Linked DNA regions of Homo sapiens: all the other regions are linked to region 3. Evidence: fine-mapped expression QTL. A gene starts in region 3. Each other region holds a variant in brackets. All regions are shown on one strand. Distances are between the middles of the regions.

The links. PIP is the estimated chance that this variant, and not a neighbour inherited with it, causes the effect. A credible set is the group of variants that fine-mapping cannot tell apart.
Region 1: its variant is the best candidate, but not a certain one, in a credible set for the expression of EFCAB8 in whole blood (TOPMed, PIP 0.52).
Region 2: its variant is the best candidate, but not a certain one, in a credible set for the expression of EFCAB8 in whole blood (TOPMed, PIP 0.67).
Region 4: its variant is the best candidate, but not a certain one, in a credible set for the expression of EFCAB8 in whole blood (TOPMed, PIP 0.58).

The regions. Positions count from the first base shown.
Region 1 is chr20:32,897,146-32,899,899 of GRCh38, forward strand. EFCAB8 (EF-hand calcium binding domain 8) reads left to right here. Exons shown (of 27, transcript NM_001143967.2): 11 at 1,348-1,478. Among named protein-coding and RNA genes, the nearest start is that of EFCAB8, 40 kb to the left of the region's middle. The variant A/G (reference allele first, on the strand shown) is at 1,255.
Region 2 is chr20:32,940,607-32,943,360 of GRCh38, forward strand. The region is part of intron 22 of EFCAB8 (EF-hand calcium binding domain 8); the gene reads left to right. Among named protein-coding and RNA genes, the nearest start is that of SUN5, 62 kb to the right of the region's middle. The variant G/T (reference allele first, on the strand shown) is at 1,116.
Region 3 is chr20:32,857,475-32,860,228 of GRCh38, forward strand. EFCAB8 (EF-hand calcium binding domain 8) reads left to right here and starts at 1,449. Exons shown (of 27, transcript NM_001143967.2): 1 at 1,449-1,532. It overlaps LOC119746555 (a long non-coding RNA gene), which reads left to right. Exons shown (of 1, transcript NR_171378.1): 1 at 1-1,277. RefSeq lists an enhancer at 1,316-2,128.
Region 4 is chr20:32,803,780-32,806,279 of GRCh38, forward strand. It overlaps DNMT3B (DNA methyltransferase 3 beta), which reads left to right. Exons shown (of 23, transcript NM_006892.4): 21 at 1,559-1,628; 22 at 2,430-2,500. Among named protein-coding and RNA genes, the nearest start is that of MAPRE1, 15 kb to the right of the region's middle. RefSeq lists an enhancer at 236-1,049. The variant C/T (reference allele first, on the strand shown) is at 1,213.

The DNA.
Region 1 (2,754 bases), 40 kb after region 3:
CCTGTGGTCCCAAGCAGCCCTCCTAGGACAACCCTGTGCCCACCTCTGCTTTCATCCCTTCACCCGCAGTGTTTACCAGCTCCCAGCTTTGTGTGGTCCGACCATTGATTCCTCATGCTGTCACCTTCACGAGATCGACAGCTCCTCAACGGCAGCGGCTTCGTGCTCTCGGTTGTCTCCAGTGCCTAAAATAGTACCCTGCGCTTGGTGGGCTCCCAATACATTTGCTGCACAAATGAATGAATGAATGACGCACTCAGGGCGGTCTGGGTGATCCAACAGGCCTGCACTGACTTTTTTTTTTTTTTTTTGGTTGAGTCAGGGCCTTACTCTGCTGCCCTGGCTGGCATGCAGTGGTGCGATCATGGCTCACTGCAGCCTTGACCTCCCGGGCTTAGGTGATCCTCCCACCTCAGGCCCCCGAGTAGCTGGGAATACAAGCACCACACCCAGCTAATTTTTTAATTCTTTTTTTGAGACGGGGCCTCACTATGTTGCCCAGGCTGGTCTACCTACCTTGGCCTCCCAAAGTGCTGGGTTTACAGGTGTGAGCCACTGCACCCGCTCTTCTGTCTTCTGTGGGAAGCTCATCTTGGGCTTGGTTTTCCCTCCAGGTCTCACTCAGTGTCTTGGATTCGGTGCCTTCATTGCGACAGATGCTTGGTGACAGTGTGTGTAAAACCCAGCTCAGGGTCTTGCATGTAGAAAGCACCAAAGAAATATTTGATGAGCCAATCTCTCCAACCCGCCTTTTCCATTCTCGTCACAGAGAGGAAAATCTCTAGATTGGGAGGCCAAGCACTGGTCCAGGTCACAGAGTTGGCGCCGGAGAATTCAGAGCCCAGCCAGCCCCTTCGACTGCGCGTCATCTTTTGTGGTTCAAGTTGCCGTGAAATGCACATTCTCATGCCCTCCGCGCTTCCTTGAGCACTCCACGCTATGACAAACATGGAGGGTGGCAGTGGGCTGGGAGCACAGCCCATCTGTAGAGGGGGCTCCCTGTGGATAACTAGATTGTGGCCTGGACAGACTTGAATTCATCCTTTCTCTCCTCGTGGGAGATGATTAGTATGGGCCTGACCTTCCCCATCCTCTAACTCACAAGATTTCAAATGAAAGTAGGCTTGTGTGCTTTTAAAAATTTTCAGTGACGAGAGATGGCCAGTGCTGGTCATAGGACCTGGGCTAGGATTGCGGGGCCACATCACTTTGTGATCACTAGGAGAAGGGCATTAGACTCCGTGATCTCTGGGC[A/G]CCTCCAGTCCCAGCACCTGGTCATGTTCTGGGGGCTGGGCCTAGAAAGTTGTCCTTGGGTGGAGTCTCCCACCATTGCTACTGTCTTCCCAGGCTCTCCATCCCAACTGGTGTGAGCAGGTCAAGTTCATCCCCCAGATGAATGTGGTAGTCTCCTGTTCAGCCATCGAGAAGTCCTCTCTGGTGCTGACAATATTGCCAGCCAAAGCCTCTAAGAAACCCAGGTAAGAAGTGCTTCTCTCCTGGCTAAGGCGGTGGGGCTGGAAGGGAGGGGGGTGGTGAGTGGACCATGGGGGCTGACAGTGGCAGATGGTGGTTGGTGTATGGACTCTGGGGTTTAGTTTTTCCAGCATTGCCAGCAGCAGCACGGTGAGAACACAGCAGCCTCTTTTATCTCCCAATCTATATGCAAAACTCAGCATAGAAGCCAGCACAGAGTGATTGGCAGTCAGTGAAATGTTTTCTGAATGAAGGGATGACTGTGAGTTACTTTCTCCTCTGTGACCCTCAGTTCCCTCATCTGTGAAAGGGTGTGAAAGCACGTACCTCACTTCCTGAAGGGTTGCATGAGGGAATCCTCTGTGGTATGTGTTCAGTAACTGGCAGCATTGGTTCTTTGCAGATGGTTCCAATCTGTTTCCTTCAGTCTAGATTCCTCTACCCTAGAGTGAAGTTTTTTCTTTTCTTTTGAAAAACTAGTTAGTCACCGGGCGCGGTGGCTCACGCCAGTAATCCCAGCACTTTGGGAAGCCGAGGTGGGTGGATCATGAGGTCAGGAGATCGAGACCATCCTGGCTAACATGGCGAAACCCCGTCTCTACTAAAAATACAATAATAATAATAATAATAATAATAATTAGCCGGGCGTGGTGGTAAGCACCTGTAGTCCCAGCTACTCGGGAGGCTGAGGCAGGAGAATGGTGTGAACCCAGGAGGTGGAGCTTGCAGTGAGCCGAGATTGCGCCACTGCACTCCAGCCTGGGGGACACAGTGAGACTCCGTCTCAAAAAAAAAAAAAAAAAGAAAAACCAATTAATCACACAAGTATGTATTAAATGCATTGTCCATGTAAAAAATGAAAACATTATAAAGAAGGTTGGAGTCCTGAGGGGCCCCCTCCTTATTCAATCGCCATTCCCTGACCCAGTTATCAAAAGCCACCACTTCTGGTTTTTTTTCTTTTTTTCTTTTTGTGACAGAGTTTCACTCTTGTTGCCCAGGCTGGAGTGTAATGGTGCGATCTCGGCTCGCCACAACCTCTGCCTCCCGGGTTCAAGTGATTCTCCTGCCTCAGCCTCCCGAGTACCTGGGATTACAGGCACGCACCACCATGCTCGGCTAATTTTGTATTTTTAGTAGAGACGGGGTTTCTCTGTGTTGGTCAGGCTGGTCTCGAACTCCTGATCTCAGGTTATCAGCCCGCCTCGGCCTCCCAAAGTGCTGGGATTGCAGGCACGAGCCACCGCGCCTGGCCCACTTCTGTTCTTTTACTGTGTGGCT
Region 2 (2,754 bases), 83 kb after region 3:
GCAAAGGATACCGTCAAGAAAGTGAAAGGGTAACCTGAAAGAAAATACTTGCAAATCATATATCTGATAAGGGACTAGTATCCAGAATATATAAAGCACTCTTGCAACTTGATAAAAATGATAAATAACCAAATTAAGATACGGGTAAAGGATCTAAATAAACATTTCTTCAAAGAAGATGTACAAATGGCTAATAAGTATATTAAATGATGGTGAACATCATTAGCTATCAGGGAAATGCATATTAAAACTATAATGAGATCCCACTTTACACTTGCCAGGATAACTATAGATAATAGCAATGGTTGGCTGGGATGTGGACAAACTGGGACTCTTACACATTGCTGGATAGAATGTAGAAAGCTGGCCAGGTACGGTGGCTCAGGCCTGTAATCCCAGCACTTTGGGAGGCTGAGGTGGGCGGATTATGAGGTCAGGAGTTTGAGACCAGCCTGGCCAGCATGGTGTAACCCCGTCTCTACTAAACATACAAAAATTAGCAGGGCATGATGGCGGGTGCCTGTAATCCCAGCTACTCGGGAGGCTGAGGCAGGAGAATCGCTTGAACCTGGGAGGCGGAGGTTGCAGTGAGCAGAGATCATGCCATTGCGTTCCAGTCTGGGCAACAAGAGCAAAACTCCAAACTCTGTTTAAAAAAAAAAAAAGAAAAAGAACATAGAAAGCTGCAGTCACTTTGGAAAACAGTCTGGCAGTTCCTCAAAAATTAAGTGTAGACTTACCATATTACCCAACAGTTCCACTCCCAAGTGTATACCCAAGAGAAATGAAAACATATGTTCACATAAAATCTTGTACATGAATGTTTATAGTAGCATTATTTATAATACAAAAGTGGAAACAACCCAAATGTCAACTTCCAAATGGATAAAGTGTGGTATGGTGATACAATGGAATGTTATTTAATAATAAAAAGGAATAAAGTACTGATGCATGCAACAACATGGATGAACCTTGAAAATACTGTGCTAAGTGAAAGAAGCCAACCACAAAATACCATATATTGTGTGATTCTGCTTAAATGACATGTCCAGAATGTCCATATTAAAGTAGATTAGTGGTTTCCTGAGGCTGGGGGAGGGAGTTGGGGAAATTGC[G/T]TAGTGACTACTGGGTAAAGAGTTTCTTTCTGGGGTGATGAAATGGTCTAAAATAGAATGTGGTGGTGGTTGCACAGCTCTGAAAATACTAAAAACCATTGAATGAGCACTTTAAATTGGTAAATTTTTATGTGAATTATGATTCAATAAAGTTGTGTTTAGATATTACTAAAAATGATGGTACAAATATTCTTTTTCACAAATGTTTTTTGTTGTTGTTTATAGTTGTTTATTTGTACATCTAGTAATTTGTCCCAAGGAAAGAGTATGTAAAAGAACATAAGTCACTTTAAGGCCTTTAATGTATACTACAAAATTGCACTCTAGAAGGTTTATACAGTTTTGCATTTCATTAGCCTGTTTTTTTTATCTTTGACAACCTAAAGAATTTATTAGTGGTATTCATCTGAGGATCCTCTAGGTCTATCAGAGTGTCTTTCTTATAGAAGGCATTCAATAAATAAATGTCCTAAGTGAGCAAAACATTTTTGGTTGATTTTTAGGTGCAAATGGTTTCTTTTGATTTTAATTAAGATGCCTTTGTTTATTAGTGATGTTGACATATTTTCTTAATCTATTGGCTTTGTATAACTTTATGAATTGTCTCTTCATGTCCTTTGCCTACTTTTCTATTGTGGTAACTATCTTTTATAAATGTTGTATAATTATTTAAAAATACATTAGGTTGGGCATGGTAGATCATGCCTGTAATCCCAGCTCTCTGGGAGGCCAAGGTGGGCAGATTGCTTGAGCCTAACAGTTCGAGACCAGCCTGGGCAACATAGTGAGACCCCATCTCTAAAAAAAAAAACCAATAAAAATATATTAAAAGATTAACTGATTGTCTATCATATGGATTACAAATATCCCCCCCAATTTGTCATTTGCTTGTTAATTTTATTTATGATGACTTAAAAATTACAATATATTTTTTGGTGTTCAAGTCAGTTTTTGTCCCCATTGTGATATTTTCCTTTGCCTGTTTATCACTTTCTTAGAGAAAAGATAAATACTGATTCGTTCTTTTGTAGGTGTTTTATGATTTCATTGAAAATAAAATCTTCAACGCATCTAGTATTCATTTGGGTGTAAGATAAAAGATAACAACGTAGGTTTCTCTTATAGTTCATCAGGTATCCTACTACTGTTTATTGAGTCATGTTTTCTGTTACCACTCTTACTATATACCAGTTTTACATACATTTGGGTTGGTTTCTGAGCTTTCTATTGTCTTCCATTGCTTTGTTTAAAATTTAAAGTTTATTATTCTGACTTTCCATACTTGAATATGGTCGAATAAGTCCTCCTTTATTAATCTTGTTTTATTTAAAAATGGTCATTTTCACTCATTTTCCAGTTCAGTAGTTTTATTCTCTCAGTGTAATGTGATTTATCACCCCATTGCTCACCCTATTCATCTCCCAATACCCAGCTGAAAAACTTTAGAAGACTGAGGCTCTTGCCCTGGCCCCATCACTTTCTAGCTATGTGGGCTTAGGCTAGTTATTGAACATGTCTGACTCTCACTTTTCTCCTCTGTAAGTCAGTGAGAATTATATACTTCTTATAAGGTTGTGAGGTTCAAATGGAATAATGTGTACAGAGGCACTTGGTAAACAATGTAGTCATATGCAAGTCA
Region 3 (2,754 bases):
CCAAAATTATTTTTGTGCAGAGGTTTATCTAGATTTTTCTTCTAAATGTCCTCCTCCCCACTTGTTTTATTATTACTGTTTTTTTCTCTCTTTAATTTTTTTTTTTTTTTAATAGAGACATGGTCTCACTATGTTGCCTGGGCTGATCTCAGACTCCTGGGCTCAAGTGATCCTCCTGCCTCAGCTTCCCAAAGTGCTGGGATTATAGGCGTGAGCCATTGCGCCTGGCTCTGTTACTGTTTTTCTAACCTGAGTTACTTAGGATCATATTTTCATTCTTTTTTAAAAAGATGGGAGTTTTCTGAACTTTTCCTTAACTAAAAAGTGGAATGCATCTTAATATTTTCCTTTTTTTACTTGTGTTTCTCCCCAGGGAGGGAAAAACATATTTATTGTGACAGAATTTAGCATATTTTAGGCCACATTAAAATACTGATAAATGTATTAATCAGTGAAAATAGGTTATAGTGAAAAATATATACCATTTGATTAATAAAAATGTTATTGGAAAAATGCAAGAACTGCTGTAAGAATTGCTAACATTGTGTTGGAAAATAAATATACTAAGCTAAGAAACAATGGGAAACTGTCATATGTAGGGCCAACAGCCTTTTTTTTTTTAAACCCTTCCAATTTATTAATATCTAGTCTAATAAACCCTGATTTATAGGACCTCTGCACCTTTTTTGACTTTTTATTCATCCATTCTTAATATTCTACACTATGACAAAATCCTTAAAACTCCATTATTGATGAAATGGGAACAGACTTTTGTTTTTGTATGTTGGTGTTCTCTGAGTGGTGAAGGCCCAGGGAGAATGTTTTGTTTGGTGGTCACTTAGCATTTGAAAACATCCACTTCCTTGTGACTTAGCTGGGTATCTTTTAACATCTGGAAGCCACGTCCCTGATTGAAATCTCTGGAGACAACTTACCTTTCACCAACTTGTCTGCCAAATTGCACCATGGACCAAGATTGCAGTGGCTGCATCAAGTCTAGGCCTGCCCTGAAGTCTGGATTTGTAAGTCCCCCATTTCAAATGGGGCAGAAGGCAGAGGAGCAGAGGAGCCACTGTGCCTTTCGCTGTCCTGGAGCCAGTTGGCCTTCTGGTTTTGGTGAACCCTGCTTTTATAAGAGGACTCCCTGGCATCTTCCAGTTTCCCGCTACTTGTTTTATGTATTATTTTATGTCTGTGTTTGTCCTGGAGTGCTGTAACTCCTTTCACTGTCTGCTGTAAGTTCAACTTCTTCAATAAAAGAAATGTTTCAAATTGGATGAAAAATGGTTCTGTGATTATGGTTTGTGGGACGGGTTCTGATGCTTCATTTATGTTCTTCATACGGAATTCTGTCTCATTTCCCTAGTTCTAAATATGACCAGCAGACCCAGAGTTCCATCTCGACTTCATAAAGGAGCTGTCTTGGACTGGGAACAGCTGCCAATGTCTTTGTTGAGATGGGAGTTGGAAAGTGTTAGCACTTTGCCAGACTTTGCCAGCAAGATTAACTGAGGAGATCAAATTGAGTCAGGGTGAGTGAGGGTTTTAGGTGAAAGTTGCTCTCCAAAAGATTGGATACCTCTGCTGAAGACCTCTGCCTGACCTCCAAGGCTGGAGAGCAGCTCTTATCTGTGTCCTGGCTGGCTTTCAATGCATGTATCCTTAAGTCATCTGCCTCTACAAATTCGTACAAACCACTCGTTCCCCTCTCATCCCTAGCATGTTCCCCTAGTGGCTGCTCTGAATTCTCACCCCTGTTCTGGATGGTACTCTCCCACCTGCCTTGCCCTGCCCCTCTTCCGTCAGCTCCGGACAGGTCAACTTTAGGGAATAGATTGAGGCAGATGGATGTGACTTCTGATCTGACCTGTTCTCCAATTCTAAATATCAACCGAGTTTTACATCTCAGCCTTCCCTTCCTTCCCTTCAGAGTTGGAGGAATGGTACTTGTCTTGGCCTCTCCCCTCTTGCTTTTGCCCTTTTCTTTTGGGTGGTCTCTGTTGGCAGCAACCAGCACTTTTTTTCCCATTTGGCGTTTTACCTCTGTTCATGAACATACATAGAACCACTTTCTCCTGGTGAAAGACATTTATCTTACAAAATATTTAGTTTTGAAATAATTAAAAATATATAAATAGTTGTAAGACTACTACAAAGAACTTCCCTTTGTCCAGATAGACTAATTGTGAACATTTTGCCACATTTGTGTTATTATACATGTTACTTGTTAAACCATTTGAGAATTACAGACATCATGCCCTTTTACCCCTAAATACTTTTCAGTGTACATTTCCTGAAACAAGGACATTCTCATAACCACAATACAGTTATCAAAAGCAGAAAACATTAATATGCTATCTAATAATATAGAGTCCATGTTCAAATTTTACATAATTTCACCAAATAACAGCCCTTGCAGCATTTTTGTTTTTTCCCAATCGGATTCAATTCAGAATCGTGCATTGCCTTTAGTTGTTGGGTCTCTTGAGTCACCTTTCATCTCTAACAGTTCCTTAGCCTTTCTTTGGTTTACATGGCATTTTATTTTGGCCAGGCGCGGTGACTCACGCCTGTAATCCCAGCACTTTGGGAAGCCAAGGCGGGCGGAAAGCACTTGAGGCCAAGGAGTTTGAGACCAGCCTGGCCAACATGGAGAAATCCTGTTTCTACTAAAAATACGAAAGTTAGCTGGGCATGGTGGCGTGCACCTATAATCCCAGCTACTGAGGAGGCTGAGGCATGAGAATCATCAGA
Region 4 (2,500 bases), 54 kb before region 3:
CCCTAGGTGGGGTGGCTGGGAGAGAAGGACCAAGTAACTTGGGCCTTAATGTGGTACCGCTGAAATCACTTTGGCATGGGAAGTTACAGATGAGATGAATTGTGCTTTGGTTCATGGTAGTTTCTGGGTGGATTATAGACAATAACAGGATGGAGGCGGGAATGGGGAGACAAGTGAAGGGACTAGACTGCTCAAAGAAGGAGAGATGACTGATTATGATGTTATGCCCCAGGAGGTGCCATCCATAGAGAACACAGTGTGAGTGGTGGCCCCTGGGGTTTGCAGCACAGCAATCCTGTGACTTAGCAAGGACGGATCAGATTCAACATATGTGGAGGGTAGGACATTTGCTGATGCATTGGATGTGTAGGCTATGAGGTGGAAAGAGCAGTGAGACCTGATGCAGATCTGATGCTGTGACTAAGCTCTGCAGGCTTATAGGATGGGTGTGTCAGGCATCATTTAGGGGACAGACCCAAGTCATCTGGCTTGTTTAGAGCTTAATCTTATAGTCAGCACAAGGCGGGGCTGTGCAGTGTCCTTTTCTTCTGGGCCCTCAGCTCCCCTGGGTCCATGTCGGAGGTAGGAATGGGGATAGAGGTAGCATTTGAAGCCTGGCAGGTGAGGTCAAGGAAATCTATCAGTCTAGGGGAAATATGTGTTGTGATTTCCTCAGCCCCTCTTGTAGGCACGGTTCCCGTTCTCATGTCTGAGTTGTTTGGCCTTGACGTTCCTAACACAGGTTACTATGGCCGTCCCTGCGTCCAGTCCTCTTGCACCAGTTTCTGTTCTGGAGCTGCTCAACTACTTTCAGTTCTAGCCCTTGCCCTTCTTAGTCATCTGTTTGCCTCTCTCTGCATTTGCAAAATAATTTTCAAGGGTGAAAGTTAAAAGGGTGCTTAGTCTTTTTTTTTTTTTTTTTTTTTGGAACCTTAAGAGACAGGGTCTGTCTCCCAGGCTGGAGTGCAGTGTTGTAATCATAACTCACTGTAGCCTCCAACTCCTAGGCTTAAGCGATCCTCCTGCTTTGAACTCCCAAATTGCTGGGATTAAGGGTAGGAACCACTGCAGGCGGTTGCCATTCACTTTTAAAGCCTCCTGAGGCTGTATCCCCAGCAGTGAGCCACCAAACCGTGGGTGTGATATGATAATTGTATCAGGTAGACCCACAAAAATCTATTCCAAGCTCCTCACTTTAAAATAGACAGGAAG[C/T]CCAAAGGGGTAGTGTGACTCGCTCAAGCTCAGTCAGTGAGCAGTGTGGAGCTGGGACCTGAGGTTTCTCCTGCCCTACCCCATGCAGTGTTCCTGCTCAATGGGAACCTGACTTTGAAGTCCAGGCAGGGGAGCATTACCTCCTGGATGCTGGGCTGTCCCCTCTAGCCCATCCTTGGCTTTGGCACACAGGCTTGTGCTCATGCCAGGATCATTTTCATCATTTATTTGTAGCCAAGTTCACTGCCAGGGCACATCTCTGCAACATAGACCCTCACTCCCACCTTGTGCCTAGCAGAGGACCCTCTATAGCTAGTAAGAAGTAATGGGTTTTGGCTGTTCCCAGGCCCGTGATAGCATCAAAGAATGATAAACTCGAGCTGCAGGACTGCTTGGAATACAATAGGATAGCCAAGGTAAGACGAGCTGTGGCCCTCTGGAAAAATGCACTTGGTGACCTCCAAGTGGGGACTTGGGAGATGACCTTGGTGTTTGATTGGTTCCTACTCCTCCCCCCACGTGACTTCCTGGTGTTGGGCTTCCCTCTCCCACATGATTGTTCTGTCCCATCCTCAAATACAGAGACTAGGAGACATTCGTGATAAGTAATCACGACGAGAAAAGGCAACTAGTCTTTTTAATTTTAGTACTGGATACATAAAGACAAAGAGTTTCAGCTGGCCCTCTCAGGGAGAAAGGAATCATTAATCCTTTTGCCAAAAAATTAATTTGCTGTCAAGTCATAGAATATGAAGACCTCCATAAACCTAAATCTCAATGTTTGCATCAAGCTAAGATCCATTTTCTAAACTCCAATTGAGCATTCTCTGTATCTGGGTGGTTTTTACTTTTTTACTTAATCTTGCTTGATCAGGAACTCTGGTGTCTTCTTGGCCCCCCACGTGATCTCGTTCATGGTCACTTTTTTGTTTATCTCATTTTCTCTGAGGCTGGTCCTTCCTGTTAACGTCTTGGCATTTGTGGGAAGCACAAAATGTTCTTGTCTCTCCAACTCTGCTTTTCGCTCCCTGCCCTGCCATTCCTCTCCCGCGCCTGCCCTCTCCCTTCCATCTTTCCCAGGTACTTTTCTCTCCCAGCCCTGCCACTCTTCTGCCGCACCTGCGCTCTCCCCTCCATCTTTCCCAGGTACTTTTGAGCCTTGACTCCCCAGGTCCCTTCATTCTGTGCTCACTCCATGATGTCATTTTGTTCTCCAGTTAAAGAAAGTACAGACAATAACCACCAAGTCGAACTCGATCAAACAGGGGAAAAACCAACTTTTCCCTGT